3 linked regions of the Homo sapiens genome follow. The protein of the gene in region 2 interacts with the protein of the main gene of each other region in a biochemical or structural test. Each region holds a gene or a part of one and is shown on either strand. Other genes may lie near its edges.

What was found.
Region 1: the proteins of BLNK (region 2) and GRAP2 form a complex in vitro, tested with the Homo sapiens proteins (one study listed by BioGRID).
Region 3: the proteins of BLNK (region 2) and MAP4K1 form a complex in vitro, tested with the Homo sapiens proteins (one study listed by BioGRID).

Annotation. Positions count from the first base shown.
Region 1 is NC_000022.11:39,965,115-39,975,810, reverse strand, and holds the end of GRAP2 (GRB2-related adapter protein 2), read right to left. Parts: intron 9,822-10,696; coding exon 9,653-9,821; intron 7,770-9,652; coding exon 7,539-7,769; intron 6,401-7,538; coding exon 6,278-6,400; intron 4,907-6,277; coding exon 4,727-4,906; 3' UTR 2,090-4,726; downstream 1-2,089. UniProt on the Homo sapiens protein: Interacts with SLP-76 to regulate NF-AT activation. Binds to tyrosine-phosphorylated shc.
Region 2 is NC_000010.11:96,197,102-96,207,797, forward strand, and holds part of BLNK (B-cell linker protein), read right to left. Parts: intron 9,953-10,696; coding exon 9,910-9,952; intron 8,191-9,909; exon of another isoform or gene 7,516-8,190; coding exon 7,431-7,515; exon of another isoform or gene 6,988-7,430; coding exon 6,956-6,987; exon of another isoform or gene 6,819-6,955; intron 6,528-6,818; exon of another isoform or gene 6,473-6,527; intron 3,958-6,472; coding exon 3,881-3,957; intron 3,058-3,880; coding exon 2,974-3,057; intron 1-2,973. UniProt on the Homo sapiens protein: Functions as a central linker protein, downstream of the B-cell receptor (BCR), bridging the SYK kinase to a multitude of signaling pathways and regulating biological outcomes of B-cell function and development.
Region 3 is NC_000019.10:38,607,954-38,617,283, reverse strand, and holds part of MAP4K1 (mitogen-activated protein kinase kinase kinase kinase 1), read left to right. Parts: intron 1-1,024; coding exon 1,025-1,089; intron 1,090-2,838; coding exon 2,839-2,894; intron 2,895-2,991; coding exon 2,992-3,039; intron 3,040-3,198; coding exon 3,199-3,241; intron 3,242-3,331; coding exon 3,332-3,404; intron 3,405-4,541; coding exon 4,542-4,673; intron 4,674-5,978; coding exon 5,979-6,041; intron 6,042-6,151; coding exon 6,152-6,233; intron 6,234-7,258; coding exon 7,259-7,375; intron 7,376-7,609; coding exon 7,610-7,688; intron 7,689-9,113; coding exon 9,114-9,172; intron 9,173-9,250; coding exon 9,251-9,294; intron 9,295-9,330. UniProt on the Homo sapiens protein: Serine/threonine-protein kinase, which plays a role in the response to environmental stress. Appears to act upstream of the JUN N-terminal pathway.

The sequences.
Region 1 (10,696 bases), on a different chromosome or scaffold from region 2:
GAGTTACAAAATGAGTAAATAGATGAGATGAAGCAGGTCCAATCATTCCTTCATTAGAAAAATATTTACTGAGCCTCTGTGTGCCTTGCATAGTGCTAGATGCTGGGTGTACAATGGTTTACAAAACAGAGGTGACCCCTGCTCCGTGGAGCTTACAGCTCCAAGTTCACTTGAACTTGGGAGGCAGAGGCTGCAGTGAGCTGTAATAGCCATACAGCTCAGTCTGGCACCATCATCTGTGTACGTGCTATTCAGGAAAAGCACAGGATTCATAAGACCATCTTAGGGGAAGGATTATTTTAGATTAGAGGGCAGGGGAGGACTGTTTGGAAGTGACATTTAAACCCAGACCTGGGCCAGGCATGGTGGCTCACACCTATATTCCCATCACTTTGGGAAGCCAGGGTGAGTGGATCACCTGAGGTCAGGAGTTCAAGACCACCCTGGCCAACATGGTGAAACCCTGTCTCTACCAAAAATGCAAAAATTAGCCAGGTGTGGTGACATGACCCTGTAATCCCAGCTACTCGGGAGGCTGAGGTGGGAGAATCACTTGAACTTGGGAGGCAGAGGCTGCAGTGAGCTGAGACTGTGCCACTGCACTCCAGCCTGGGCAACAGAGCCAGACCCCATCTCAAAACAAAAACAAAAACAAAAACAAAAACAAAAACAAAAAACAAAAAACAGAAAACAAAAAACCAACCCAGACCTGGAGATGAACAAGAGTTAGCAGGGTTAGCAGGGGATGTGCCTCCAGGTAGCAAGAATGGCAAGTGTGAAAGGTTTGGGGACAAATCCTTGGCCATTTGGAGGCTGAAAGGCCAGTGGGGCAGGAGCATAAAAGCAAGGGGCAGGGGAGGCAGAAGAGGAGGCTGAGGAGGGAGGCAGGGGCCGGACTTCACAGGGCCACATTAGGACTTTGGACTTAAGCCTAAATCCAGTGGGAAGGGGAGTGATGTGATCGGATTTATTTTTACAAAGATCGCTTTGGCATCTGTGTGGAGGACCAGATTACGGGAGAGAATGCAGGGAGAAAGGTATGAAAGCTGACAGTTGCCAAAGGAAGAGATGATGGTGGCATGGCCAAGGTGATGGAGTAAAGTGGAGGAACTGAGGAGGCATTTTTTAAAAAGCATTGAGACAATCAAGGTTTTTCTCACACACTTGCCTTGGTATAGAGGGGCTAAAATGTTGGCTTAGACAAGGCAAACAGTAAATATTTTGGCCATGCTAATCTGTCCCGAGTGTGGGCTGTTGTGTTTTAGGTTAGCTGGGAGCACAGTCCCCTGCCTCAACCAGGGCCACATCTGACCAGAGTCAATTTTATGACTGAAGATTTCCTGACAAAGCTTTTACAACTTCTGCAATCTCTGCTGATGTTTAAAATAATTACTATTAGGAAATAGTAATTATTATAGGAAATTCCTGTTTGCATTTCATCTGAATTCCTCTCACATTACATTTTTTTAATTCTAGAGATAAGGATGCTAAAATAATAAGTCACCTGGGTAGCCAAATATGAATGACGTCATAATGACCGTTCTGAATTGCATCTGTCCCAAAGCCAAAGTGACCTATTCGTTAGCAGCGAAGAAAAAATGGCCGAATATCCTCAGAAGAAGAGCCCAATTAGAGTTGTGCTCACTGCTAAGTTCTTTGCCTTTGCTCCTTAACATGTGGACCTAGCAACAGCACCCAGTAGCTTGTTAGAAATTCAGGACCAAGTTGGAAGCTGCATTTCAACACGGTCCCCAGGCAATTCGTAGGCACTTTAAATTTTGAGAAGCACCATGGTTAGATCACCCTAGGGCCATCTAAAAGTGGGTGGGCAGTGGCAGGTGCCAGATATTTGAAATGCGGTGAGGCACAGCAAGTGGTTAGGAAAACCCAACAACTGGTCCAACAGGACCTGGCTTTTCTCTGGAAGCTTCAAGTTCCCAAGTCACATAGAGTGTTGCAGCCAAACTCGGGGACAATGTGTTTGTTGGCTGCTGGTTCTGTGGCTGGTGAGAGGAGCTGGCTCAACCCTCCTCTGGTGCTGAAATGCTGTCAGGTAGAAACTAGGGCCCGTGGGGACACATGCGGAGGGGCTCCCCCTGGCAGCACCAGAGGCTGAGGGGGGTTGAGCTCTCTTTCCCCCTCCCCTCCATAATGTGGACAGTTTGGTTCTTGTCCTCTTTACCTGGCCGCTAAGAGCCCTCATTCCTTGTAGGTGGTTTGGGTGACTTTCCCGCTTCCTTCTGAATGGAGGCTGATGAGCAAGGGAAAGATGCTTTGGCATCTCAGTACAAAATACTCTTCAGTAGCTTTTGCTACAACAGAACACCGAGCTCCAGGGGTTCTGAAAGCTCTGCTCATACCGCCTGCCTACGGGGTCAGCTCCTGCAGGCCGATGACCCCTGTCACCCCCTGGTCTCGTTCTCACTCTCTACCTGAGGGGTATGCAACGCAGACACCAGACACGGCCTGGCCAAACAAGGACACTTTGTTTTATTACTGCTTTCCTGAGAAGCCTTTCAAGGCACAAAGTCTCCACCAGAATCGAATCACATACCTCCGTCTAACTAGAGCTGGTCCTCCCACATCATCAGACAACTGGATGGAGTTTGTGGGCTGTTTAAAGCATATGGTTTGTAAATACTGTAAAATCAAACATTACTTATGGCTTTTATTTACTGCAGCATTTCACATTACCTAGCACCAAAATAGCTGAGGAGGTCTTCTCTGCCTTTGTTCTTTCTCCTGTTCTTTTCCTTATGCTTCTTTGCTCCCTGCCTTCCGCAGCAGCGGTTTCTCTGCTCTGATTCTTCCTCTCCCCACTGCCCAGCCCTCCTCCTGCACCATCTGCCCACCAACTCCACACCGTTCTCTTCCCTGGCCCCACTCACCCTCTCCCTTTCCTCCCCCTGTGCCTCTCACGCTGCCCCTTGATCCTCCTGGATGTCTTAGCTACCTTTCCCTCTCTCTGCTTTCACTTCCAAAAGCTGCAGGTGCTCCTTACTCACACTCGACTCCCTCCTGCCTCCACCAGGCTATTTTCTTTTCCCTCCCAATACCCACCACAGAGTTCCTTTTTTCCTCTTTCCTCTAAAGGAAACATGAGGATCAGAGAACTGTAGAATCACAGTCACAAGGGACACTGCTTGTGCTACACTGGCAGTCACTTCTGAGTCAGAAAATCTTTCTTCTCCGATCACCTTCAATAACGGCTGCCCCCAACCCCATCCCTCCTTAGAGCAAGAGAGGTTGGGGAAGAGAAAACTTCCAGGCTCCCTCACCAACACTTTCACCCCCTTTCCTGTCTCAGCACACACACAGACACACAGATGCATGCACGCACATGTCCACACATGCAGGAATGCACACATATGCATACACAAGCACACATGTATACACACAGGAGTGCACAAATATGTGCGTGCAAGCACACATGTGCACACCTGCAGGGGTACACACCCATACCCACAAACTCCGAGTGCACTTGGTGCAGAACGGGTTTGCACCCGGCCTCCCCTAAGGCCCTGAGCTTCCTCTCTACTGTCTCCTTCGCCCCTGGCCAGGCTGACCTGTGCTGTGCACCTCCAGAGTGAGCCCTTGGACACATGATTCTAGCGTGATGGGATGGAGAGCGACAGCCATGGTGGGGTTCCTTGCTCCAGGTGCAACTCTTGGGCAGCAGGAGGACAGCAGTGGTCAGACTGAACAGGAAGCTGGTGTCAAAGCCAGCTTCCACCTGGGGTCATGTTTAGTCAATCAATTCATAGTCAGGCTCCTATCATCAAGTGGGCTTCTTTCCATGCCACTGGGCAAGGCATCTTCAAAAGAGAAAATCAAGAGGGAAAATGAACAGAGCCCTGAAGACATACCCTTGTAACCATAAAACAATGACTGTAAAATTCAGCATTCTCAGCTAGAGCTTCTTCAAGCACTTTACGGAATGTAGGATGCTATTTCCTTCATAGCTGGGGAAACAGAGGTTCCACTGAGTAAGCTGCTTGGGGATTGTGGAAAATCCCTCGATTTCCCAGTACTTCGCTCCTCACATTGAAACATTCATTTGAAAGACCCAAGGAATATTAATTTGAACAGAGATGAATGTCTCAGCTAGGTGTTGACTAGGAGGCCAGCCTTGCACAGGCAGGGTCTCTCCAACCCCGTCCTGCCTTCACATCCCCGCTCAGACTCGCTTGGCTGCCCGCAGCACTGGGCTGCACCTTAATTCCTAATGCAACAGTGCCCACCCCTTGGAGAACAGGAGGAGAGCTGCTCTGCAAGCCCTCCAGGTGAGCGGGGCTTGCAGGTCAGCTAGAACGTGCCCCACCAAGTTCAACCCCACCCTGTTGTTCTGTGTCCAGTGCCGAGGTGTGGTCTCTGCTTAGCTGTTCTCCGTGAAAATTCCCAAGACAAGGAGGAAGCAGTGACAGCTGAAGGCCAGGACAAAACTCCATTTCATTTCCCTGCCCCCCTCCCAACTCCCCCACTGCCTTCCACACACCCCTGAGGGGGGCAGAAAAGCAAGTGTCAATATTATTCTCCACCTGAGTTCCCTTTTGCATCAACTAATTACCAGCCCAATTGCCAATAAATTACTAGTATAAAAAGTTGTGTGTGTACACAGGCAGATGTAGATAGATGTATGTATATATAGTCATGGAGTCCAGCCTTTTTTCCTTGCCCTCTTTCTTGTGGGCAGCTCCAGACAAAAAGCTTCTGTCCCCTGAAGAGTTTATCGGGTCATGGGTGCCACGTAGTTGGCAGGGAAGAGGCCCAGCTTGTTGTGCAGGCGGCCGGTCCACCAGGATGGGTTGGAGCTATCCAGGACCTCCACCACCTCCCCGCTGTGGAACCCCAGCTCGTCATCCTCCAGGGCCTCAAAGTCATACAGCGCCCGGGCCCACCGCACTCGCTGTTGGGGGAAGCACAGAAGAGGCTCTGCTGAGCTGTGGGCTGGGCAGGCAGGGGAGGGTCTGCTGGCTCCTCCCACCACATCCAAGTCTTTGAGAGCAACATTCCCTGAAGGCTGACCCCTCTGCAGCTTAAAAAAACTTTTTTTGTAGAGATGGGGTCTTGCTATGTTGCTCAGGCTGGTTTTGAACCCTTGGCCTCAAGAAGTCCTCCTGCCTTGGCCTCCCAAGTAGCTGGAACTACAGGTGTGAGCCACCATGCCCGGCTACCCTGCTGCAATTTAAATCAGATACCTATGCACAGGCCTGAGCAAGAAGTTCCCAGAACGCACCAGCGTCACTCTGGAGACCCAGGACTTTTACCAACAGATGTTATTGTCCAAAGCCCCAATAGACTCCCTGAGAACCACTCTCTCCACATCAATAGGTGGTATTTTTATCTTGAGTGACAAACAGAAGGGCAACATGCCCCAAACAACAGCCCTTGGTGTTAGGGCAATCAAGTCACAAGTCAAGATGGATCACAGGCCAGGCACGGTGGCTCATGCCTGTAATCCCAGCACTGTGGGAGGCTGAGGTAGGAGGATTGCTTGAGCCCAGGAGTTCCAGACCAGCCTGGGCAATATAGCAAGAGCTTATCGCTACAAATAATATACCTAGCTACTTGGGAAGCAGAGGCAGGAGGATCGCTTGAGCCTAGGAGTTTGAATCTGCAGTGAGCCATGATTGTGCCACTGCACTTGAGCCTGGGAGACAGAGTGAGACCCTGTCTCAAAAAACAAAAAAAAGATGCAATGATAAAGGCAATGGTAAAGGACTATGATAAAGATGATAAAGAACTAGAACTGAGAACTATGAGAACAGGGAAGGCCTGGCACCAGACTGAGATCAACAGACTGGACGGTGCTGGCTCAGCCCCAGGCCTCCCCAAACATTCCATCACCTCTCGTTGATCTGTGTGTGCATTTTTGTTTTGTTTTGTTTTGTTTTTTGAGACGGAGTTTCGCTCTTGTTGCCCAGGATGGAGTAAAATGGCGCAATCTCGGCTCACTGCAACCTCTGCCTCCTGGGTTCAAGCAATTCTCCTGCCTCAGCCTCCCAAGTAGCTGGGATTACTGGCATCTGCCACCATGCCTGGCTAATTTTTGTATTTTTAGTAGACGTGAGGTTTCACCATGTTGGCCAGGCTGGTCTCGAACTCCTGACCTCAGGTGATCCACCTGCCTTGGCCTCCCAAAGTGTTGGGATTACAGGTGTGAGCCACCGTGCCCAGCCAGATCTGTGTGGTTTGAGTCTCTCCTGCCTCATCTCCTCCATTGACCTCTGTCCCAAGGCCTTTCCCCAGGGATCCCAGAGAAGGACAGTTCCCATACCCCTGCCGCCTGGAGCTGCACTGGGTCTGTGTGTCTCCGATGCATGAGGGCCGCATTCATTTCACTGCCCAAGCCGGTGCCACAATGCCCATCATTTATGTCAAGGCTGCCTCCTCGGCGTTCCTAGAAACATACAACAGAAGACTGGTCACCCCACTGCCAGGACATCTCCCACCGGTTCCCCCAGTGCCTTGCTCAGATGCCATCCACAGAGCCGGTATATTCCAGGAATACTTACTGATAATGACAATAAACCCTCCACGTTGAGGAGGACCTAAGGTCTAAAGGCACCTTAGATTCTGAAGGCAAAGAAGGCAAAGGCAGGTTTTATTTATTCAGTCAAGAAATATTTATCAGGCACCTACCATGTTTCCAGTAGCAGACACAAGGGAAATATAGCTGGAAAGAGAAGGTCTCTGGCTTCATGGAGCTTCCATTTAGAGGGGGAACCATGCACATTTAAGTGGTAAGTGAGCAGAGAGAAGAAATGTCTGTATCTGCCCGGGAAATCAAGGAAGGCTTCACAGAGGAGGTCATGCTTGAACTCCAGCTTAGAGGGGTAGGACTGCCCAGGGAGGGGCTCATCAGGCAGAGAGATCAGCATATAAAACGCCACAAAGGCATGAGAGGAAACGCAATGGACCATTCGGGTAACTAAGGCAGCGTGGGGGGTTGCTGGAATGTGTGTTTGCACGGGGAGTTGGCAGGGAGGCAGCAGGGACGAGGCTGGGGAAATAGATTCTGGCAGCTCACAAAGGACTTTGTGTGCCCTGCTAAGGAATTCAGGAATGATGTTATCTGGCCGTATTGTCCATCTCAGTAAGCCGCCTGAAATCCCATCGGGAACAAGGGTGGAGGGAGATAAATAAGTAATAAACAAGGCTCTGTTGTGGGTATTAAGCCTTTTTCTCTTGTGGATCTGACAGCCAGATGGGCTAAGGGGCATGAATAGATTTGGAATTGTGCTGATAGGAAAATGAAGCAATTGTTTACTGGGTCCTCAGGGGAAGTGTGTGTGTGTGTGAGTTTAAGTGTGTGTGTGTGTGTGAGACAGTGTGTGTGTGTGTGTGTGTGTTCAGGTGGGAGCCATTTAATTCATAGAGATGTCTTTGCCAAGAACAGTTTCCCTATTTCTGCCATTTGGGGGGGTCCAGGGTCTTCATCATGAACTCTCTGAGAACTCAAGAGGCTGGGCCAGGCCTGGAGGGGAGGCAGGTTCTCCTTTCCACCGTACTGTGCCCACTGCCTTCTTTCCAGATACCTGGTGGAAATGGTGGTGCTGCAGATATCGCTGCTGTGGGGGCTGCTGCAGCTGCTGGGGCGCTGGGGCATATTGCGGAGGCTGTGGCTGGTGCTGGTGCTGCTGCAGGGGAAGGGTCGGGGGGTGATCCGACAGCTTCCGGTTCATCGAAGGTCGGATTTCTTCTCCCACAGCCCCACTGAGGTGTGGGCCTCCCTGGGACCTCCGGTCCAGGCTGTTGCCCCGGTGACCCTGGGAGAAAGAACAGAGATGCTGCAGATGCATCCTCCTCTCTGATCGTCTGGCCCTACCCTACCCTCGGGCAGTTGTTCCCAGACCCTGCTCATCTGGCTCCAAGAAATAGCTGGTGGGGTGGGGGCAGCTAAAAGATAATTGATGCTTTAGACCTTCACATTTTCCAAAGTGGCCTCTGCATTCTCAGATCCTCCCAGTTTTAGGAGTGCAGGTCTCTGGTTCACAGACTAACACTTTTTGCCTGGTAGCCATTTAGTCCATTTCCAGGGCGCTCGTTTTTTCTCTGTGTAATCAAGCTGAAATATTCCATTTTACTGATACAATGCCACCCCTTCTTATCACATGTTGCCACACCACTGGACAATCTACCCTCCAGATAAGCTCCACTGTTGACTTTGCATGATTTTGAACTGTCATTTACAGCCTGGTGATAGAGACCCAAACAGCAACATTCTTGCAACACCATGGGAACCAGGCCTGCCGCCGGGCTGGACGTGGGGGAAGAAGTAAGGCCTTTTTCCCTAATGTTACAACAACCTTACAAATCAGAAATACCGTATTGTTAGTTTCATTTAACAAACAATTATGTAGGACCCTGAGGGCAGCATATACCAGGCACTGTTCTAAGCGCTTTACAAATATCAACTCATTTAATCCCATTTAATGCAATTTTATATTGCTTCTCTGAATGCCCATCCTAGTGAGTTAATACCTCTGTCCGTTTCCTGGTTAGAGTGATTCACAAGGTCTTGGCTAGCCTTTGTTTTCCTTTCTGAACTTCTGTGTGCATTTGGTGGTAACTTCTTTTCTCCTTTGGCAGTAACTTCTCAGGCTTAAAAGCAACTAGGGACTCGAAAAAGGAGGATTTTCTTGACTTCCCCAAAGCACACATTGCTTTCACAGTCTCAATATCTTTTCAAATAACCTGTCCCTAGGATTTCAGCTATTCTAGTGAATGCTTCTTCCTATGATACCTGTCTCTTATAACCATGTTATTTCCTTTGAAAAATAGTTCATAAATTGGTGTGTGTGTGTGTGTGTGAGTGTGTGCATGTGTGAATTTACTTATGGGAGGCAAGTTAACATGTTCTTAGTGTTTAATATGGACCAGACTCTGGTAGTGCTTAGCTGTATTAAGTCATTTAATCCTCACAACAGCCCAGTGAGGGAGGTTTTATTGCTCTCTCCATTCTACAGATGAGAAAACTGATACTCAGATGGTTTCTTAACTTGGCTAGGTAATACAGGTAGCTAAGCGATTAAAGCAGGATTTCATACCAGGTCTGTCTGACGCATTTCCTTTTAAAGCAATAGTCTGTATTGCAAACAGTTGCAACAGCAATAATTCCAAGTGCAGTTTTCTCCTCCCATGTCCTCCCTACCCCCAATCCCATCATAAAACTCCACATGCTGATTTAACTCCTGAACTCTAGGCTGTTCCCTAATGTCCCTGTCTGTAGCACCCCCAACTCCTTCATCCTTGGGCAACTCTTGAGCTAGGTTGAAAACTTTGGTGTAGCAATGTCTATGAATAACAAAAAAACAGCACCTGTGGTAAGAGCTGATGCTTGCTGAGCGCAGTGTGATGAGGAATGACATGAGGCGTGGGATACATTATCTTCTCCAACCTTCACAGCCATTCTGGGAGGTAGATATTACCATTGTCCCTACTTTATGGATGAGGAAACTGAGGCGCAGAGAACTTTCCAAAGTCACACGACTAGGAAGTGTTAAGTTGAGATCTGACCTCAGAGCTCTGAGCTCTGTCTTTCAGTATACTCAGAGGATCTACCCATCCTATGCATTTTTCCTGGTGGTTCATGTGAGAACTCAGGCTGCCTAAAATCTCTAGATTGGGGTCGACTGGATCTGGAGCATACCTGGTCTTCTCGGGTTCTGTCTCTAAGGAAGATCTGCTTCTGTCTGGAGATGGAATTTGTCCTGTAGTAGTCTACCAGCTTATTTAGGGATGGAAACTTCTCAGTCCACAGAAAGTAATTACCCTTGTTGTCTCGCATGACCTTGAAGTGTTGAACGTCATCCTCATGCCTGGAGATCAAGGCAAAACAAAATTGTATGTTACACGGTGATAATGTCACCACCTCCAGGCTGCTCACATCTGGGATGGTGGAGTTCTCTTTGAGCAGGAGATGTAGATATGGATGACTCACTCATCACTGGGCAGGTGGGCCAGCCCAGTCAGGCTTCGGCAGGAACTTTGTAGGATGGACCACTTAGGATACAGGCTATGCTAGACGGGATTTACATCAGCAGAAGGTAATCAGATGAGCTAAAATTTGTTTTGGACACTGGAACTAACCTTTTACAAGAAAAGCATGTTCCAAGTGACTTAACGACAAAGAGATCAAAGACCTTTTCACAATGTTTATTCGCAAGATGTCAACAGGGGTATTTCAAGCTCCTATTATCTTTCTGTTACCAGAAATTCTTTGAACCATCTCCTTTAAGCCCATAAGCTAGCACTGGCAGGTAAGAAGCTACTCTCTTTCCTAAGAAATATGTCACATTTTTTCTCTATGTAATAAGGATCTCTTGATCTTGGTTTATGTTTTGCATAAATAAGGTTACAAAGTGTTTTCAGCTTTTGGTGAAATAGCTTTGTATGAAATACAGAGTTTTTGTTTGTTTGTTTGTTTTGTTTTTTTGAGATGGAGTCTCACTCTGTCGCCCAGGCTGGAGTGCAGTGGTGTGATCTCTGCTCACTGCAACCTCCGCCTCCCAGGTTCAAGCGATTCTCCTGTCTCAGCCTCCTGAGGAGCTGGGATTACAGGCACCCACCACCAAGTCTTTAGTAAAGACGGGGTTTCGCCATGTTGGTCAGGCTGGTCTTGAAGTCCAGACCTCCGGTGATCCACCTGCCTTGGCCTCCCAAAGTGCTGGGATTACAGGTGTGAGGCACTGCG
Region 2 (10,696 bases):
ATTACTTATATTTCTACAGGTTCAAAAAATCATTTTGTGAAGAACACCTATATTACATTCCAAAGGTAAATTATTTAGCTACATTATTTTTATTATTGATTAGCGCTTGTCTTCTTATTTTCTAAGAAAATAGTCCAGGAAAATATATACTCATAGAAAATCCTGAGTGAGATCAATGCTTGCCTTTTTTGAAAAAAAGGTAATAATTAATTAATTATTTTTAGAAACAGTCTCACTTTGTTGCCCAGGCTGGTGTGCAGTGGTGCAATCACAGTCCACTACAGCCTGGAACTCCTGAGTTCAAGCGATCCTCCCACCTCAGCCTCCTGAGTACCTGGGACTACTGGCATGCACCACCATGCCCAGCTAAATGCTAGCTTTTTAATGTGCTAAATAAGGTTTTATGTTTATAAAATTTAGAAATATGTGAAGGGACACATTAAGATCAAATCTAGAGGACTCTCTTGAACTGGGAACCATAGCCACCAGTTGTCTATGAAAAAAAATGTATCAAACAAATTCCATTCATAAGTACTATAAGAAGAAAACAGAGGTTGGGAATCAAAACTTTCATTTTATATTTGCCCCTGGACTAAAATCTTGGGTCAGACTGACCTCATTATGAAAATTCTCTCCTCAAAGAACTTTTATAAGAAAAAAAATCCCTAGCCGGGCATAGTGGCGGGCACCTGTAGTCCCAGCTACTCGGGAGGCTGAGGCAGAAGAATGGCGTGAACCCAGGAGACGGAGTTTGCAGTGAGCCAAGATCGTGCCACTGCACTCCAGCCTGGGTGACAGAGCGAGACAACATCAAAAAAAAAAAGAAAGAAAAAGAAAAAGAAAAAAAAATCCCCAAACTGTAAGACAGTAATTCAAATTTTATTAAATTTTTTAATAAAAATATTTAGAATCATAAAATAAAAAATTACGAACAAAAGATGGACAAAAAGCAGAATGAAATGCAACAAGAGTTGATCAAACTCAGGAAACAAACTGAAGAAAAAGACAAGCCTATCTCAACAAAGAACAAATTATAAGATGTCCAAGGGACGAGAGCTTCAAATGAAGATTTAAGAAATGACACTTGAAGGAAGGTGTGGAAACAACCAGGAGAGAAAATGGGATTTAATAAAATAAGTACCATAGAATCAAAGACAGTGATGGGAGAAAAAATGACAAAAAAGATCCAAAACGCATGTAAATTGAGTGCTTGCAGAAGAAAAACAAATAAGGGAACAGAACAACCCTTTAAGACTATGATCTAAGAAAACTTATTGGATATAAGAGAAAACTTAAATCTACGTATTGAAAGGGCTTCTGTCTACTTGAGAAAATTGATTTGGAATTATCAACTCAGAGATATATTCTGGTAAAATGATTAGACTTTAAAAACAAAAAGTCTGCAGAGCCACCAGACTAAAGTATCAAATTACATAGAAGGGCAAGAAAGTCACATTGGTATCAGACTTCTCAAGAGCTTCATACAGAACAACACAATCTAGTGGAGCAACACTTTTCAAACTCAAATTAAGGATTTTATAGCCAGCCAAGATTTCTTCCAACTACTAGGATATGAAAAAACAGTTTTTTAACTCTCTTTCTCTTTTTATTCCCCCACAGCAGTCTCACTCTTGTTGCCCAGGCTGGAGAGCAGTGGCATGATCTCGGCTCACTGCAACTTCCGCCTCCTAGGCCCAACCGATTCTCCTGCTTCAGCCTCCGGAGGAGCTGGGATTATAGGCGCCCGCCATCACGCCTGGCTAATTTTTTTATTTTCAGTAGAGATGAGGTTTTGCCATCTTGGCCAGGCTGGTCTCAAACTCCTGACCTCAAGTGATCCACTCACCTCGGCCCCCCAAAGTGCTAGGATTACAGGCATAAGCCACTGCGCCTGGCTGAGAAAATAGTTTTGAATATAAAGGAACTCAGGGAATAATGTAAACACGATTTTTCCTCAGAATCTACTACAGGTACACTTCATCAAAGGAAAGAGACAATGGTGGAAGTCCACCAAAGGACTGACGGAACACACTAATATATTTACTTGTAGAGCTAGGACTAAAACAAGGGTGAGGAAGAACAGTATGTAAATGCTATATATTCTGACAAAGTGGAGTGCAAGAAAACAAAGAAAAAGAAAATGGGAGGAGAAGAGAGAAAGAAAAAGTGTCACTTTAATCTTGAATTGTCCAAGCTGTCCCTGGTGTTCCTACATGATTGAAGTTGGGCTCTCCAAACATTTACTTCCAGGTATTTTTTGTTTGTTTGTTTGTTTGCCATCTTGACTCAAATTTTTAATCCTGCACATTGATCCAAAATAGCCTGTCACTGTTCACTCCTCAGTGGAGCTCATGCAGCACCAAGCCTTCCATAGACCTCCCCTGGAGCTTTCTCGTCTCCCACTGTTTGGAGGGCAGTGGAGGCTGTGGGTCCTTGAGGAGATGAAAGGACAAGTAGAAATGAGATGGAGGAACTTGAAAGAGAGGAGGGGATAGCAGTTTCTCTTGAGTAAGTAAAGGAAAAAGATCCTTGTATCTACACTTGTTGCAATTATTTAATTAGCATATCATAAGGACGACAACTGTGTCTATTACAGGCTGAGGGCAAAACGTGTGATTTAAAAATGATCAGACCTTGGCCGGGCGCGGTGGCTCACGTCTGTAATCCCAGCACTTTGGGAGGCCAAGGCCGCCAGGCAGATCAACTGAGGTCAGGAGTTCGAGAGCAGCCTGGCCAACATGGTAAAACCCCGTCTCTACTAAAAATACAAAAATTAGCCGGGCTTGGGGGCACACACATGTAATCCCAGCTGCTTGGGAGGCTGAGGCATGAGAATCACTTGAACTTGGGAGGCAGGCAGAGGTTGCAGTGAGCTGAGATCGAGCCACTGCACTCCAGTGAAACTGCATCATCTCAAAACAAATAAATAAAATAAAATAAAATAAAAATAATAAATAATAAAAATGATCAGACCTTGTTTGATCTGTGCAATGCCTCTTCAGCAGACTTTCGATCACAGGCTCCAGCATACCATGGCTTGCAGAGAACGCCAGCTTCCTGTGAAATGGAGGGCACTGGTCAGCATGGGATGGTCCCTACTTAACTCTAATTTCTGTGTACTAGAAACAAAGACCCATTTGCATTATCAAGACAGGCCTCTACATTTACACCAATAATTTTAAGATGAGTTTTATTTTTCCTTTGATCAAACACAAGGATTATACCGTTAACTTGTTTTTTGTATTTTTTTTTCATTTGGCCTTAGCTAGGTTCCTGAATTATTTCTTTCTTTCTCCTAAATAAGTAATAATCCCCCTTTCCATTGTGCTCTTATTGCTCTTACTTTGTGGAGTGCTTTACAATTTCCAAAGCATTTTTACAAATATTATTTTATTTGATTCTTGCAAGAAAGGATATATGCCTTCTTTGAAGGCAAGAAGGACACATGCTATTATCCGTATTTTACATTTTTACATATATTTGTATGGAAACTTAGAAAGACTTGCCCAAGGGCACACAGAGTCCTTTCTCTGTCCCTTTATAAACTGTGCTGTCTTATATGTGATTTAATATCATCAGCCTCTACAGATCTATTTGGAGGAAATTACAAAGTTTAAATAAAATCTATGTGAGAGGAAGAATAATGAAAACACATTTCCTTGCTAGTTTTGAGGAAACATTAACTGGAGCAATGTCTTAGTCATTGAAAAAAAACAACAACTGGGTATTCTGTCCCTATTACCAAATGACAGTTCACATAATGATGTAAAATACAGTCTCTGTTCTCAAGGTTCACTCCAAATGTCTTCTTCTCAGAAGACATGCTCTTTCCTGCAGTTTCCTGGTAACAATTTAGTGACATCAAGAGTTCATTTCATACCTGTTCTGAAATAGTGGAATTAGATGAAAAGCTGGGTAGGGGCCCATCCACAGTTGGGTTTCCCCCTTCTGTAAATCCTGAAAGGGATCAGAAAAGTCCTTCAATTAATCTTCATATTTCTTGAACTCTTTCTATGCCTATCCCCTAACACTGTACTAGGTGCTGCCAGGGACACATCCACCAAAAAAAATCCTTAAGGCAATGGTTCCAAAAGTGTGGTCCAAGGACCCCTGGAAATCTCGAAAATCCTTTCAGGTGGTTCAAGAGGTCTTTTCTTTTTGAATTACCTATCACTATGAAACCCAATTTTCCTCATGTAGTTCCACCAGAAAAACATTGCAACAGATGAAATGTAGAAACAGAGATGAGAATCCAGCAGTCTCTGTTATGTTGCAGTAACATACATTAAAGAGATTTACAAAATGTAAACTAATGCCACTCTTTTCCCTAAATTGTTTTTGTTTGGAAAATATAGTTATTTTTCATAAAAATATTATTTATGTTAACATGTAATGAGTTTAATATTATTTTTAAATGGATTAATAAATGTTTTAAATGTCTCAGTTTTAATTCTTAAAATACTAGGTATCAATAGAAACATGTAAACCAAAGCTCTTTGGGTCTACAATTATTTTAAGAGTGTTAAAGTGGTTCTGAGACCAAAATGTCTGAGAATTGCTGACTTCAGGCATCAACTCCCTCAAAGAGTTTACAGTCTAAATGTGGAAACATGTGAAATACGAAAAAGACTTATCTGCATTCATTCATTCATTCATTCATTCATTCATTCTTGTTTCTCTGCCATGGATCAAAGGCATTGGGGATATACAGCAGTTAACAAAACAGCAAAATGCCCTGCTCTCCTGGAACTTAAATTTTAATGGATTGAGATGGGCAATAAAGACATAAGTAAAAAATATATATATAATGTTAGAGGGTCATAAATGCTATGAAGAAAAATAAATCAGGAAAGGAAGAATATGTGGGTGAGATCTGCAGGTGGAGAGGGAGGAGGCACTGGACATCCCAGGAAAGAATGTCCCGGGTAGAGGGAGCTGTGAAGGCAAGGCCTGGCATATCTAAGGAATAGCAAGGGTGCCACTGTGCCTGGAGTACAGTAAGAAAAGGGGAGAAGAGTAAGAGATACAGTCAGACAGGAGGCAATGAAGGGACCAGATTTATAGGACTTGGTGGACCCTTAACATGACTCAAGAGCTGTAATGAACATGATAAGGGAAGCTTTTGGAGGGTTTTGAACAGGGGGGTAACATGATCTGCCTATGTTTTAACAGGGTCATTCCAGCTGCTGGGCTGGAAACAGAGGGTGGCAACAGCAGAGTGGGGGAGGCCAGTTCGGTGTTCTTGCAGGAGATGACAGTGACTTGGACAGATCACAGCAGTGGAAGCAGTGAGAGTGGTTGGATTCTGGATCTATTTTGAAGGAATAGCTGGAAGGTGTGTGAAGAAAGCAAGTGAGAAGTCAAGGGTGACTCTAAGGTTTTTGACAACAGCAACCAGAGTTGTCCTTTATTAAGATGGGGAAATCTGCAGGAGAAAGAATTCTGGATAAACTAAGTGCTTCAGATAATAGTGCCCTGGATGTTTAGAGAAGGCAGCCACCATTGTAAGAGGAGGGGGCAGTGAGGGCTTGGCAGGCCCAACAAAGATGGGCCAAAAGGAAGGATGTATTCTAATAGGAGGGGAACAGCACTCCCAGGTGAGAGCAGCAAAGGTGAGTGAGTGAACAGACTTTCCCTAGGTGCACAGTGCAGGGCAGTTTGTGGTTTCTGCAGTTCTGGCAGTTGGAAGAGTACCCATGGCTAATATTTTCTGACACCCGAATGTGCTAGGCCTATTCTGTTTTCAACATGCGTGCATCTCGTCCTTTCACCAGCTCTTTGTGGAATGAGCTATTATGCCCATTTTATAGAACAGGCCTTCTCAGACCATCCTGTCTACAGCAGCAGCCCTCCCTGCCTCCGTTACTCTCTGCCACCCACCCCTGCTGCTGCGCTGTATTTTTCTTTATAGCACTTCAGCATTTACCTGATATGATATTATTTGTGCGTTTATTTTTACTCTCTGTCTCCTTCAGTAGAATATAAGTTTCATGAGGACAGGGTCTTTATTTGTTTCGTTCATCCTTGTATCTCCTGTGCCTAGAACAATGCCTGGCACACGGCATATGGTCACTAACAACTGAATGAATGACTTGGTTTGAAAAACGGTAAAAGGTATAATAAACCTTTTTAAATAATGAAAAATAAATTTCTGTAGCCAAATCATTTTCACTTTGTGTTGTCAGAATTTTTTTTAAAAACTAGTAAAAGTTTCATTTATTTAAGATGAATATTATTAAAAATTTAAAAAGCCAATTTATGTTTAGTAAAAAAAATGCATAAAAATTTTGCATGTGGACAATTACTGTTTATTTAAATGGATTTAAGCTTTATTATTTTGGAATATATCCCAAATTATCTATGTAAAGCAGAGTTTTTTTCTTCCTTTTTTTCCCACATTGAGTTGCAGGCAAATTAAGGTTTGGGCAGTTACGTTCTGTGAGCCTGACTTATCCGATTCATATATTTTTAGGGTGATGTTTGCCTTGGAAAAATTATCCAGATATTTGCCGTATCTTCTTTTTAAGGTACCTTTTGTAGACATATTTTGTGATCTTTAAAATATATTTTGACTTAATTTAAATCGGTATTATTTGTTTAGAACCAAACACTATAGCTGGTGCTTCCCATATGTTGTTTTACTTGATCTTATTATTTTGAAAACAGCTGTATTGTTTTTGTAAAAAAAAAAAAAGTTAAAAAAGGATGCATGATCAGTAAAATATTAAATCGCTACTAAAAAAAGTAAAAATTGCCTCAAATATATTTACTTTTCAAAACAACTCTGTGAAATAAACATTCTTGGCCCCATTTTACAGGTAAGGAAACAAGTGGGAGAAGATGCCAGGATAACGCAGCTGGAAGCGACAGTGCTGTGTTAGAACCCAGGCCTATCAGACTCTAGGATCCAGCCTCGACCACTCCCTGATACACTACATGGCTTCGTTGTACTTACTTGGCAGAGGTATGGGTTTTTGGTGGATTTGTCTGCAAGAAAGAATTTCAGATAATTAAAGGACAAAGCACAATATGAGTAAGTTTGACTTTTTGTTTACACTGATGATGCTGTGAACAGGCACATCACAAATAAATCAATACAAATGGCCAATAAAATGTATCTAAAGATAAAAGAGCCACCAAAACCTTAAAGATAAGTAAGACTCTTCCTTTTAGTTTTGAAAAAGGAGGAAATCTTGACTAAAGTATTGTATTTTAGTCAAGTTCAATAATTAACCCAATTAGTAGGTCTCTGCAACTCTACACAGTTATTTTAAAGTTGCTCAACACCTTTTAACACGTAACTGCAAAACAATGAAATGTTGGATTTTTACCTAGCACTGCAAGTCAGTGTCACTGTGCAGTGAAACAATGCACATGTTAATTCCTGCAGCAACAAGAGGAAACTGATCTTTAAAGGAAAGGATTCTTACTTCTGGGCAGGAGGAAACACTGGTGACTGCACAGCTTCTTGTCTGTGACTTGACCCTCGGTGGCGTTCAGCAGGTATAGGTTTTTCTGGATCAGGAAAATTATCATATTAGGATTAGAGTGAAATGTCTGTCCTCATCCCAAAACCCAGCAACATCAGCTGAGAAGAACCAAATTTGATCAGAAGTCTTCCCGGGAACATGTCTTAGTTACTGAGATGTCATGGATCTGTGCACTTGCCAGTCTGTTGATGTGGTTGTGCTATGAGGACCAGGACTCCCTCCCAGCAGTGTTACAGGTACATCCTACCACCTCTGCATTCATCCACTGGCAATGTACATAGAGACTGAACCCACGGGCCCTGAAACTTTAAGTGTGTGAGTATAGGTGGAAGCCAGAAGATGAGAACATTTTAGCCACCCTCTAAACAACTCACCCTCTACTTGCCATGTGGCCTCCACACAGGTGGAGACAACACCCTGGTGGGTCTTGATTAGTCATAAGACGTGGTATAAGCAGTGTGTTACTGATAAGAGGCACACTACTGAGTTCATAAATGATCTCTTTTTGCAAAATTAATTGGATCAAATTCAAGGTTATCCCTATAATAATGTAAATCTCACTTGCATTTCAGTGTTTTCCTGAGCAGAAGAGGAAAGGGTGGGAAATGAGCATAAACCTGAAGTGTAAGAAATTTATGTTGAAGCCCATAGTGAACTCTACTGCTGAACCATTAATAAATGTGATCACACATTATTTTAATACTTTACTCTCCCTCAAATTTGTCGTTGGGGGGTGGGGTGTGTTAAAATCTTGGTATGTTCATGTGTGAGTCTGCATGGAAGAAAGGCTGAGAACTACAGAAACCCCAAAGAAATAAAAGTAGTAAGAACTCAAAGATTCAAATAAATGGTAAGATAGACGTCAGGGTTTCTTACCATTCAGTGGTGCACTAAAGCTTGGAAACCTTGAACCTCTGAAGATTGTATTTTGAATTTGTGGCAAGCTACTTCAAACCTCTATGTTAGATGTTTTGCTCATGACATTAAAACTTGGTAATTTCAGAAGGAGAAACAATGAACACCTTAGGTCTTGCCAGCCTATAAGCTTTGACTACACCTGCTCTGCCTCCGCCATCCTGATTCCTTCCTAGGCTAGTAGAGGCCACTCACTCACTTTGCATTTGGATGGTAATTGCCTATGCTCTTGAAATAAATAACAAAGGAGGGGGCATGCCTGGCAGGCTCCTGTACTGGGAACCCTTTGAGAATGAGGACACCTAAGCAGCAGTGGACATGCCTTGGGCCCTGCTTCTTTCCTGGATTTTGGAGGCTCTTGTAGCCATGAAGTCTGCACAGGTTGTACTTACTTCCTACAGATGCTCAGAGCTCCTGAAGTCACTATCACTCCACAACCTGGACTCAGCAGGTCTGAGAGGCTGCAAGGAATGGAAGTACAGAAAAGACAAAAGCCTCAAAGGGAAGGCAGAAGAAAGCAATACAGCAGAAAAGGGGTGATGCCTCAGAAATAGCCTAGGGAAGCAAGATATGGGAGACAGGATGAAAAAACCTAATGGCGTCATTAAAGCAGAGAGGTGAGTTGTAGTGCATGCTCAGAAAAGATCCACTGTCCATCATCAGAGAAAGGAGAGTGCTTTATGTAGATATACGCACATCAACTCAGGGAAGAGGGAGAATACTCACTACATTTTTAACCCTGGGTATCTTCAAGTATGGAATTAAATGGGTACAGGGCATGAACTTCTATATAATGTTTTAAGTGCTGATATTATAGATGATTCTTCTATTTTTTTCCGGTAATTTCCAAACACAATTTTTTTTAACATGAGCAGTTTCTAAAAATATATATAAGATTTTTGAGTGATGATAAAGGAAGAAATTCTAAATTACTCAGGAGGCTGAGGCAGAAAGACAACTTGAGCCCAGGAATTTGAAGCTGCAGTGAGCTATAATTATGCACCACTGCACTCCAGTCTGGGCTACAAAGTGAGACCCTAACTCAAAAAAAAAAAAAAAAAGGAAGAAAAGCAATTGAAGATGTACTAAGAAGACAGACAATTGAACTTTGAAAACATTATCTTGAAAACTTAGCAAAAGAACTTGTTCAAATAAACAGATTTTTAAAGTTTTCATTACTTTAAGTAAGCTATTAGTTCTAAAACATGTGAATGGCTCTACGTTAGTTTTCACATTTATGTAAGGTCCTAGCACTATTGCCTGGCAAGTCATATCTGTCTGCCAAAAGGCAGGTTTTTGCATGCATTCTGTAGCCTACTCTAAACATGCTGAGGTTCTGAGCTAGTTTTGCTGTTCATTGCTCATTGCAAAAACTATTTTGTTTAGAAAATTGAGTTTCATGTTTACAATTGCCCCAAAAATAATGTAATAAATGTGTACATACAAATCCTTAATAAAATAACTTTTAGAGGACATGCTCATCCTTCAAAATAATAGATTTTACCTTCACAAACACTTGAAGCATTCTGTTGAGAGGCAACTGGAGTCTATGTAAAAGAAAAAAAGGCAAGGTTATTCAATATAGCAGAATGTGGAAATAAATGTCAGAGCAATATTATTAAAATAAATATTTTGGCAGCACTTTTCTTTGATGCATTGCTATTCTTTCAATCACAACAACAATTACAAACCCACAGTCCCTAGCCCAACCTTTGCATTAAGCAACAAACAGCCAGAAGTGTCCTATGAAGGAGCAATGTCACTGTGGTGGAGAAACCTCCCTGCCTTGTCAACAGGGTTGATGGAAATCATGACCCCCCCAGCAGCTGCCACATAGTAACCCATGTACAGCAGGCATCTGGCATCTGCTTTGGTCTCATGACCCCCCCCTTCTGTGTGTTTGCTAAATGATTGTAAATGTCAGGCTTCACAGTAGGGACTAGGTCCAGGTGGGCTCCCTTATGTAGTGTTGTGGCCCAGGTTCACCATGTTCTGGCCAGAATCTGAGTTTAGTGAGGCCTATGTGTGCCTGATACACAATGGTCTACCATTAGCTGTGGTGGGGAGTGGACACAGACGCTTCCTGTGGAGAGGGCAGGGAACCTGGCTGCCCCTCTGATCTGCTGCGCACACTCAGTGAAGCTGCTGGGATCAAGTGAGGATGAGCTCCTTCTATGCTCCAGGGAGGAGCATCCTCCCTGGCTACCTGAGGATTTGAAGCTTCTCTTGGACTGCTTGGGCAGCAACTTCAGTTGCTAAGATTGCTGTGTTCACCATAGCTGGAAGCATTT
Region 3 (9,330 bases), on a different chromosome or scaffold from region 2:
GTACCCTCAGTTCTTTTTTTTTCTTTTCTTTTTCTTTTTTGAGATGGAGTCTTGTTCTGTTGCCAGGCTGGAGTGCAGTGGCATGATCTCAGCTCACTGCAACCTCTGCCTCCTGGGTTCAAGCAATTCTCTGCCTCAGACTCCCGAGTAGCTGGGATTACAGGCGCTCACCACCCTGCCCGGCAAATTTTTGTATTTTTAGTAGAGATGGGGTTTCACCATCTTGGCCAGGCTGGTCTTGAACTCCTGACCTTGTGATCCACTCGCCTCGGCCTCCGAAAGTGCTGGGATTACAGGTGTGATCCACCGCGCCTGGTCTTGGCACCCTCAGTTCTAACCTTGAACTTCCATTTCTCACCATAACCCGACCTCCCATCCTGGACCCCCATTTTTGACTGGGCTAACCCTACCATGATCCTCACTCCTAAGTCCCACTTTTCTGACCAGAGCAGCCTCTAATCTAATCTCCAATCTAAAATTCCCATTTCTGACCAAGAGTACCCCAAATTGATCTCTTCATAGTAACTGAATTTGAAATCAACTCCCTTGAAACGAAGCTCTCACCATTCTGCTCTTTGGCTCACCCAGTTTCACTCTCTGCTCCTTTAATATAAACTCCTAAATTCCCTGATCCCCAAATTAATATTCCAGATGCCCCAATAATGACCTCTGCTCCCCAGAACAGGTGCCCTGGGCCCCTCTGTCCCCTCCAAATCTCCACAACCCGTGAGATCTCTGCCCTGCCTCCTAGGTTGGCGTGGGACGGCAGTGGGGTCCCGCCCAAAGGCCTAGGTTTGAGTTGACTTGCCCCGGAACTCACATTTCCTCTCTGAGCCTTAACTTCCTTGTCTGTAAAATGGGAATGAAACAACCTCACTCTGGTAGACAAGGAGAGGTGGAGTGATGAGAGCTGTTACGTTAAAGTTCTTATTGAACTAGAACAAGACAGAAGCAAACCAGGGGCTTTCCTGCAAATAATAATGTATTTACTGCTATTATTATTCTTACTCTTGAACCACTGCAGGTTGCAGAAACTCTGGATCTGCATGGAATTCTGTGGGGCTGGTTCTCTCCAGGACATCTACCAAGGTTAGAGAAAGGACAACGGGACCCAAGCACCCCTCCCTATCCCCACCCCCCAACCCCGACCCAAATTCACCTCTTCCGTCTCTGTGTGTGTATCTCACAGGAACTGTCTTTCTGGGCCATATTTCAAACTCCTGGGCTGAGCTGATCCTCTTGCCTTCAGCTGTCGAAGTGCTGAAACTACGGGCTTGAGCCACTGTGCCTGGCTTTTTTTTTTTTTTTTTTTAATATAACTGCTGGGCCTGGTGTGGTGGCTCACGCCTGTAATCCCAGCACTTTGGGAAGCCGAGGTGGGCGGATCACCTGAGGTCAGGAGTTCAAGACCAGCTTGGCCAACATGGTGAAACCCCGCCTCTACTAAAAATACAAAAAATTAGCCGGGCGTGGTGGCAGACGCCTGTAATCCCAGCTACTCGGGAGGCTGAGGCAGGAGAATCGTTTGATTCTGGGAGGCGGAAAACCTCTGATTCCTTCCAGCCCTAGACCTCAAATGTTAGAAAAGGAAGGACGTCATTGAGAAGTCCTCAGGAGGGAAACTGAGGCCCAAAGAGAGGAAGTGAATCCCACAGCTGGTCTGTCAGACCTGATGTCTGACGGCCTCTCTCTGTCTGTCTGTCTCTCTGTCTCTCTGCCTGTGTGTTGTTCTTACCTCGTTACCCTCTGGGTCTCTCTCTAAATCTGTCTGTCTCCCCATATTTTGGCCTCTGACCTCTGTCTTTGTCTTCTGTCTCATTTTTTTGTTTTTTTCAATCCTGTTCCTTTTGTATGTCTCATGTATGATCTGTCTCCGTTTCTCTGTCTCTCTCTGTCTCTGTGCCTTTCCTTATTTTGCAAAGTCACATGACGCCCCTGCTCAGAGCCCTCCTACAGCTTCCATTTCTCTCGGAGGAGAAGCCCAGACTCCTCATCAGGGTCCACCCCATGCTGGCCAATCTCACCTCCTCCCACTTTCCTCCTCCCCCTCCACTCCACCCCACCCCCTTTGCTGCTTTCCAGACCCACCAGGGACTATCCCACCTGGGGCCCTGCACTTGCTGTGGCTGGTCCCACTCAGAGTGGGAGCCCTCATGTCTTCACCCACTGTCACCTTCAGAGAGCAGCCCTGACTGACCACCTCTGTGAAATGTCATAGCTCCTCCTACGCGCACCTTTCTTGCTTTATGTTTCTTCTTGCTGTCTATCAGCGTCTGAGGAACTATATCATATTCTACTTATTTATCTTGCTTACTTTCTTTCTTTCCTTCTTTCCTTTTTTTTTTTTTTTTTTTTTTTTTTTGAGACAGAGCCTCCTTCTATTGCCCAGGCTGGAGTGCAGTGGTACGATCTCGGCTCATTGCAACCTCCACCTCCTGGGTTCAAACGATTCTCCTGCCTCAGCCTCCTGAGTACTTGGGATTACAGGCATGCACCACTATGCCTGGCTAATTTTTGTATTTTTTAGTAGAGATGGGGTTTCACCATGTTGGCCAGGCTGGTCTCGGACTCCTGACCTCAAGTGATCCACCCACCTTGGCCTCCCAAAGTGCTGGGATTATAGGCATGAGCCACTGCGCCAGGCCTATTGGCCTCTTTTATTTGCATTGCTGCCTCTTTCTGTCACTGACCACCCCACCATCTCCCCCTCCCACTGGTCCTATCCTATTTCCCCTCTCCCTATGGCACCCTCTTAGCTGGTGTGGGGGGGCAGGACTCCCCAGCCCAGGTTCCCTGGCTCCCATCCAATGCCTGGCCTGGCCGGGGTGACCTTTGCAGTGACAGGCTCCCTGTCAGAGCTCCAGATTAGCTATGTCTGCCGGGAAGTGCTCCAGGTAAGGAGAGGCCTGGGGATTCTGGGGATGGGAGGGGAGGGTGGCCCCACTCCAGCCCCCAAACACTCACTGTCCCCTTGTCCACCCTTCTCCCCAGGGACTGGCCTATTTGCACTCACAGAAGAAGATACACAGGGACATCAAGGTGGTCTGGGGGTGTAGGGGTGCTGTTGGGGGGTGGGGCCCAGGAGATGGGAGTGGCATTTCAGGGGCTCAGGGATCAGGGTAGTTTGAGCTGGCGGAGTGGGCTAGCACTGGGCTGGGGAGAGTCTCTGCAGCCTCCCATATCCCCTCTCATTCCCAGGGAGCTAACATCCTCATCAATGATGCTGGGGAGGTCAGATTGGGTGAGTAAGGCTGGGGGTTGAGCAGGGGGGCTGACTGGGGGGCCGGAAGCGCAGTGGACCCCAGATCACTATGTCTCCCTCTGCTTCCAGCTGACTTTGGCATCTCGGCCCAGATTGGGGCTACACTGGCCAGACGCCTCTCTTTCATTGGGACACCCTACTGGTGAGTGGCGCCCAGCGGGCAGCTAGGGGTGGAGTGGGGGTCAGTGGTTTTTCCTACCCTGGTTCCCCGGGATCCTCTTTCCTGGCTCCGTTCCCCTGCCTCGTCCTTTCTCCTTGGAAGATTCTTTCATTCTCTCTGGGTGTCGCTTGAGTTTTCCATTTTCCTCTCTCTTTGTGCCCTTTTCTGGCCATTGCTCTCGGTGTTTGTGTTGATTTTTATCTTGATTTCTCTGTCCCTCCATATCCATTTCTGTCTTTTTCCTCTAGCTCAGTTTGCAGTGCTCTCTGTCTCTTTGTTTCTGTCTCTCTCACTCTCTGTCTCTGCCTCTCTGTCTTTTCATTTTGTTTTGTTTTTAGAGACAGGGTCTCACTCTGTGGCCCAGGCTGGATTGCAGTGGCATAGTCACGGCTCACTGCAGCCTAGAACTCCTGGGCTCAGGAGATCCTCCCACCTCAGCCTCCCAAGTAGCTGGGACCACAGGTGTGCACCATGACACCTGGCTAATTTTTAAAATTTGTGTAGAGATGGTGTTGTTTTTTTTTTTTTTTCTTTTTCGTTCTTTTTTTTTTTCTTGAGACGGAGTTTTGCTCTGTTGCCCAGGCTGGAGTGCAGTGGCATGGTCTCAGCTCACTGCAACCTTCACCTCCCAGGTTCAAGCAATTCTCCTGCCTCAGCCACCAAGTAGCTGGGATTACAGACGCCTGCCACCACGCCCGGCTAATTTTTGTACTTTTAGTAGAGACGGGCTTTCACCATGTTGGTCAGGCTGGTCTCGAACTCCTCACCTCAGGTGATCTGTCCGCCTTGACCTCCCAAAGTGCTGGAATTACAGGCAAAAGCCACCGTGCCCAGCCGAGATAGGGTCTTGATAAGTTGCCCAGGCTGGTCTCAAACTCCTGGGCCTAAGCCATTCTCCTTGCTCAGCCTCCCAAAGTGCTGGGATTACAGGCGTGAGCCATCGCGCCCCGTCTGCATCTCTGTCTTCATCTGCCTGTGTCTGTCTTTACTCCTGTCCCTCTGTCTCTCCATCTGACTCTCTGTGTGCTGCGTCTCCCCTCAACTCCTTCTCCTTCTCTGCCCCTCCTTCCCTTCCTGTCCCCATGCCACCTCTGGCTCTCTGAGCGTGTCTGCCCCCAGGATGGCTCCGGAAGTGGCAGCTGTGGCCCTGAAGGGAGGATACAATGAGCTGTGTGACATCTGGTCCCTGGGCATCACGGCCATCGAACTGGCCGAGCTACAGCCACCGCTCTTTGATGTGCACCCTCTCAGGTAGGCAGGCGTGGGGTCCCCAGGCCCAGAGATCCTGTCTAGCCCTGGCCCAAAGCCCACCCTCAGCTTCCGCCTTCCATCCCAGGAACCTCCAATTCAGGGATCACCACTTGAGCCTACCTTTGCACGTGCTGCAGCTCTATTTTTTAAATTTAATTTAATATTTTATTTTATTTTATTTTTTATTTTTTAAGACAGAGTCTTGCTCTGTTGCCCAGGCTGGAGTGCAGTGGCACAATCTTGGCTCACTGCAACCTCCATCTCCTGGGTTCAAGCTATTTTCCTGCCTCAGCCTCCCGAGTAGCTGAGGCTGCAGGTGTGCACCACCACGCCCGGCTAATTTTTGTATTTTTAGTAGAGACGGGGTTTCAACATGTTGGCCAGGGTAGTCTCGAACTCCTGACCTCAGGTTATCTGCCCATCTTGGCTTCCGGAGGTGCTGGGATTACAGGCGTGAACCACTGCACCCAGCCTATTTATTTATTTTTATTTTTATTTATTTATTTATTTTTGAGATGGAGTCCCACTCTTGTTGCCCAGGCTGGAGTGCAGTGGCAAGATCTCAGCTCACTGCAACCTCTGCCTCCAGGGTTCAAGTGATTCTACCACCTCAACCTCCCAAGTGTGGGATTACAGGTGCACGCCACCATGCCTGGCTAATTTTTGTATGTTTTGGTAGAGACGGGGTTTCACTATGTTGACCAGGCTGGTCTTGAACTCCTGACCTCAAGTGATCCACTTGCCTTGGCCTCCCAAAATGCTGGGATTAAAGGTGTGAGCCACCACGCCCAGACATTTTTTAAATTAATTAATTAATTCTTATTATTTTTAGAGACAGGATCTGGCTCTGTCACCCAGGCTGGAGTGCAGCGGCACGATCGTAGTTCACTTCAGCCTTGAATGCCGGGGCTCAAATGATCCTCCTGCCTTAGCCTCTCACATAGCTGGTCCTACAGACCCATATTGCCACACCCAGCTATTTAAAAAAAAAATTTTTTTTTTGTCTCACTATGTTGCCCCAGCTGGTCTCCAACTCCTGGGCTCAAGCTATCCTCCCGCCTTGGCCTCCCAAAGTGTTGGGATTACGGGCGTGAACCACCACACCTGGCCTTGCCATAGCTCTATCACTTCATAAATGGCTTCCCTTAGGAGAGGCACCCTGGTGCACTGTAAAACCTGAACCTCACTTCCATGCTGTTTCTCACTTTGCCCTCTGCTGACCACAATGCTACTAGGAACCCCTCAAGCCATGAGGTCTGGCCCCCTTGAGGGTCTGAACCCCATGTCCTTTCCCTACTATTCTAGAGTTCTCTTCCTCATGACCAAGAGTGGCTACCAGCCTCCCCGACTGAAGGAAAAAGGCAAATGGTACGAGAGAGTAACAGGAGGGAGGGTGAGAGAGGGCAGGGCTGGGGCTGGGTGGCCTGATGGGAGGGTTTCTGGTCCCCTCATCCAGAACCTGGCTTCTTCTTCCCAAGGTCGGCTGCCTTCCACAACTTCATCAAAGTCACTCTGACTAAGAGTCCCAAGAAACGACCCAGCGCCACCAAGATGCTCAGTGTAACCCTCCCTTCCCCAAGATCCTCAGCCTAGGATTCCCTGGGGCCTTCCACAACTCCCGAGGACATGGATAACTTTGTTCCATGGAGTCCCCGTGGCCTTTCCAAAGTCCCTAGTGCCTCAGAATTTCCCAGGACCACCCCCGACCACCAGAGACCCTCCGGGTTATACCCCAGACCTTTCCCAAATACCCCGAGTTGCCGGAACTGACAAATTCCCAAAGGACTCAAGACTTGTCCTGAGTGTCCTCTTGAATCCCCAGGGAACCACAGTCTCTTCCAAGACAACTCTGGAATTCTCCTAGCCCCGCTCTGAGAAACCTAAATTCTTCTAATTCCTAAAAATGTCTTAGACTCCCACCGGTCGGCTGGGCATGGTGGCTCACACCTGTAATCCCAGCACTTTGGGAGGCTGAGGTAGATGGATCACTTGAGGTCAGGAGTTTGAGACCAGCCTGGCCAACATGGTGAAACCCCGTCTCTACTAAAAATACAAAAATTAGCTGAGCATAGTGGCGCACGCCTGTAATCCCAGCTACTTGGGAGGCTGAGGTTGGAGAATTGCTTAAACCCAGGAGGCGGAGGCTATAGTGAGCCAGGATCGTGCCACTGCACTCCAGTCTGAGTGACAGGGCGAGACCCTGTCTCAAAAAAAAAAAAAAAAAAAAAAAAAAAAAAATTAGCTGGGCGTGGTGGCACGAGCCTGTAATCACAGCCACTCGGGAGGCTGAGGCACGAGAATCAATTAAGCCCAGGAGGTGGAGGTTGCAGTGAGCCTGGATTGTGCCACTGCACTCCAGCCTGGGTGACAGAGTGAGACTCTGTCTTAAAACAAACAAACAAAAAAGAATACCCCAGGCCTCTGAGTTCCCTGGATTTCCCCGCCCTCTGCCTTCACTGGCACCTTCTCCCCAGCTAGATTCCTTTAGTCCAGTCCCCAAGGCCCTGTACCAGTCCTCTCTGTCCACACCAGCCCTCTCTGTCCACACCATCCCTCTGGATACGGACACCTCTTCCCTCCGCCAGCATCAACTGGTATCCCAGCCTGGGCTGAATCGAGGCCTGATCCTGGATCTTCTTGACAAACTGAAGAATCCCGGGAAAGGACCCTCCATTGGGGACATTGAGGATGAGGAGCCCGAGGTGAGAGCCTTGGCTGACAAGAGCACTGGGGACCTCTCGGTCTTTCTCAGGCTGTGCCTGCTGCCAGCAGTGCCTTCCTGCTGCCTCTCTTAGGGGGAAAACAGGGAGGGAGGATGGGGAGCTTGGTAAAAGGCTGTGTGCCCAGAGGGTTACAGGAGAGAGCAGATGGACCCCGGGCAGGGTAGGAGGCTGCTTGGGGGTCTTGAGCCCTGACGTGGCTGCCCCTCTGCCCAGCTACCCCCTGCTATCCCTCGGCGGATCAGATCCACCCACCGCTCCAGCTCTCTGGGGATCCCAGATGCAGACTGCTGTCGTGAGTAGAGAATCCTTATGTTTGGGGACACCTGACCCTATAATAGACCTAAGAGACCACCTTCCCCTACCATCAGGCCTCCAGAGACCCTCAGCATCATCTGATCCTATAAGAGACCCCAGACAATCTCATCAGCACCTGAACTACAAAATGACCGTAGAGGCCAGGCGTGGTGACTCATGCCTGTAATCCCAGCACTTTGGGAGGCCAAGGTGGGCAGATCATCTGAGGTCAGGATGTCAAGACGAGCCTGGGTAACATGGTGAAACCCTGTCTCTGCTAAAAATACAAAAATTAGCCGGGTGTGGTAGTGCACGCCTGTAGTCCAAGCTACTTGGGAGGCTGAGGTAGGAGGATTGCCTGAACCTGGGAGGTGGAGGTTGCAGTGAACCAAGATTGCGCCACTGCACTCCAGTCCAGGTGACAAGAGCGAGACCGTCTCAAGGACAAAACAAAACAAAACAAAAACAAAAGCAAAATGACCATAGAGTTCCCAGGGAGACCTCAGAAATCTCATCAGAACCTCAATACCCAAACGGATCCTGAAAACACCCTGTAACTACATTGAGCCCCCAACTTCCTGATCCCAAAACTTATTTATTTGTTTATTTTTTTGTGACAGGATCTTGCTGTGTCACCCAGGCTGGAGTGCAGTGGTGTGATCACAGCTCACTTAAGCCTCAAACTTCTTGGGCTCAAGGAATCCTCCCACCTCAGCCTCCTGAGTAGCTGGGACTACAGGCTTATTCACCACGCGTGGCTAATGTTTTTTTTTTTTTTTTTTTTTTTTTTTTTTGAGACGGAGTTTCACTCTGTCGCCCAGGCTGGAGTGCGATGGTGCGATCTTGGCTCACCAAAACCTCTGCCTCCTGGGTTCAAGCGATTCTCCTGCCTCAGCCTCCAGAGTAATTGGGATTACAGGCGCATACTACCATGCCCGGCTAATTTTTGTATTTTTTTTTAGTAGAGACGGGGCTTCACCATGTTGACCAGGCTGATCATGAACTCCTGACCTCAGGTGATCTGCCTGCCTCACCTCCCAAAGTGCTGGGATTACAGGCGTGAGCCACTGTGCCCAGTCACTTGGCTAATTTTTAATCATTTTTTGTAGGGATGGGTTCTTGCCCAGTTGTCCAGGCAGGTCTCAAACTCTGGGTTCCAGCGATCTGCCCACCTCAGCCTTCCAAAGTACTGGGATTATAGGCGTGAGCCACTGCACCTGGTCTTGATCCCAAACTTGACCCCCAAATGAAGTCCCTGTAATCCAAGACCCCTTTCCCCAAGGGACAGTTCCCTGAGATCATTTGCAGTCCCCAAGATCCTGACTGCAACCCCCCCGCCAATTCTACTCTTTCTGTTCTTAAACCCATCTCGTTACCCCTTGCCCCCAGCTCACAGCAGGTTATCTTCCCCCACCCACCCTAGGGCGGCACATGGAGTTCAGGAAGCTCCGAGGAATGGAGACCAGACCCCCAGCCAACACCGTGAGATGCTGTCCCCCCACTCCCCACCACACCGCCTGCTTCCCTGAGGCCACTGCTGACCCTTTTCCTACCCCACAGGCTCGCCTACAGCCTCCTCGAGACCTCAGGAGCAGCAGCCCCAGGTCAGGGACCCCAGGGAGGATGGGGAGGGGGCTGGA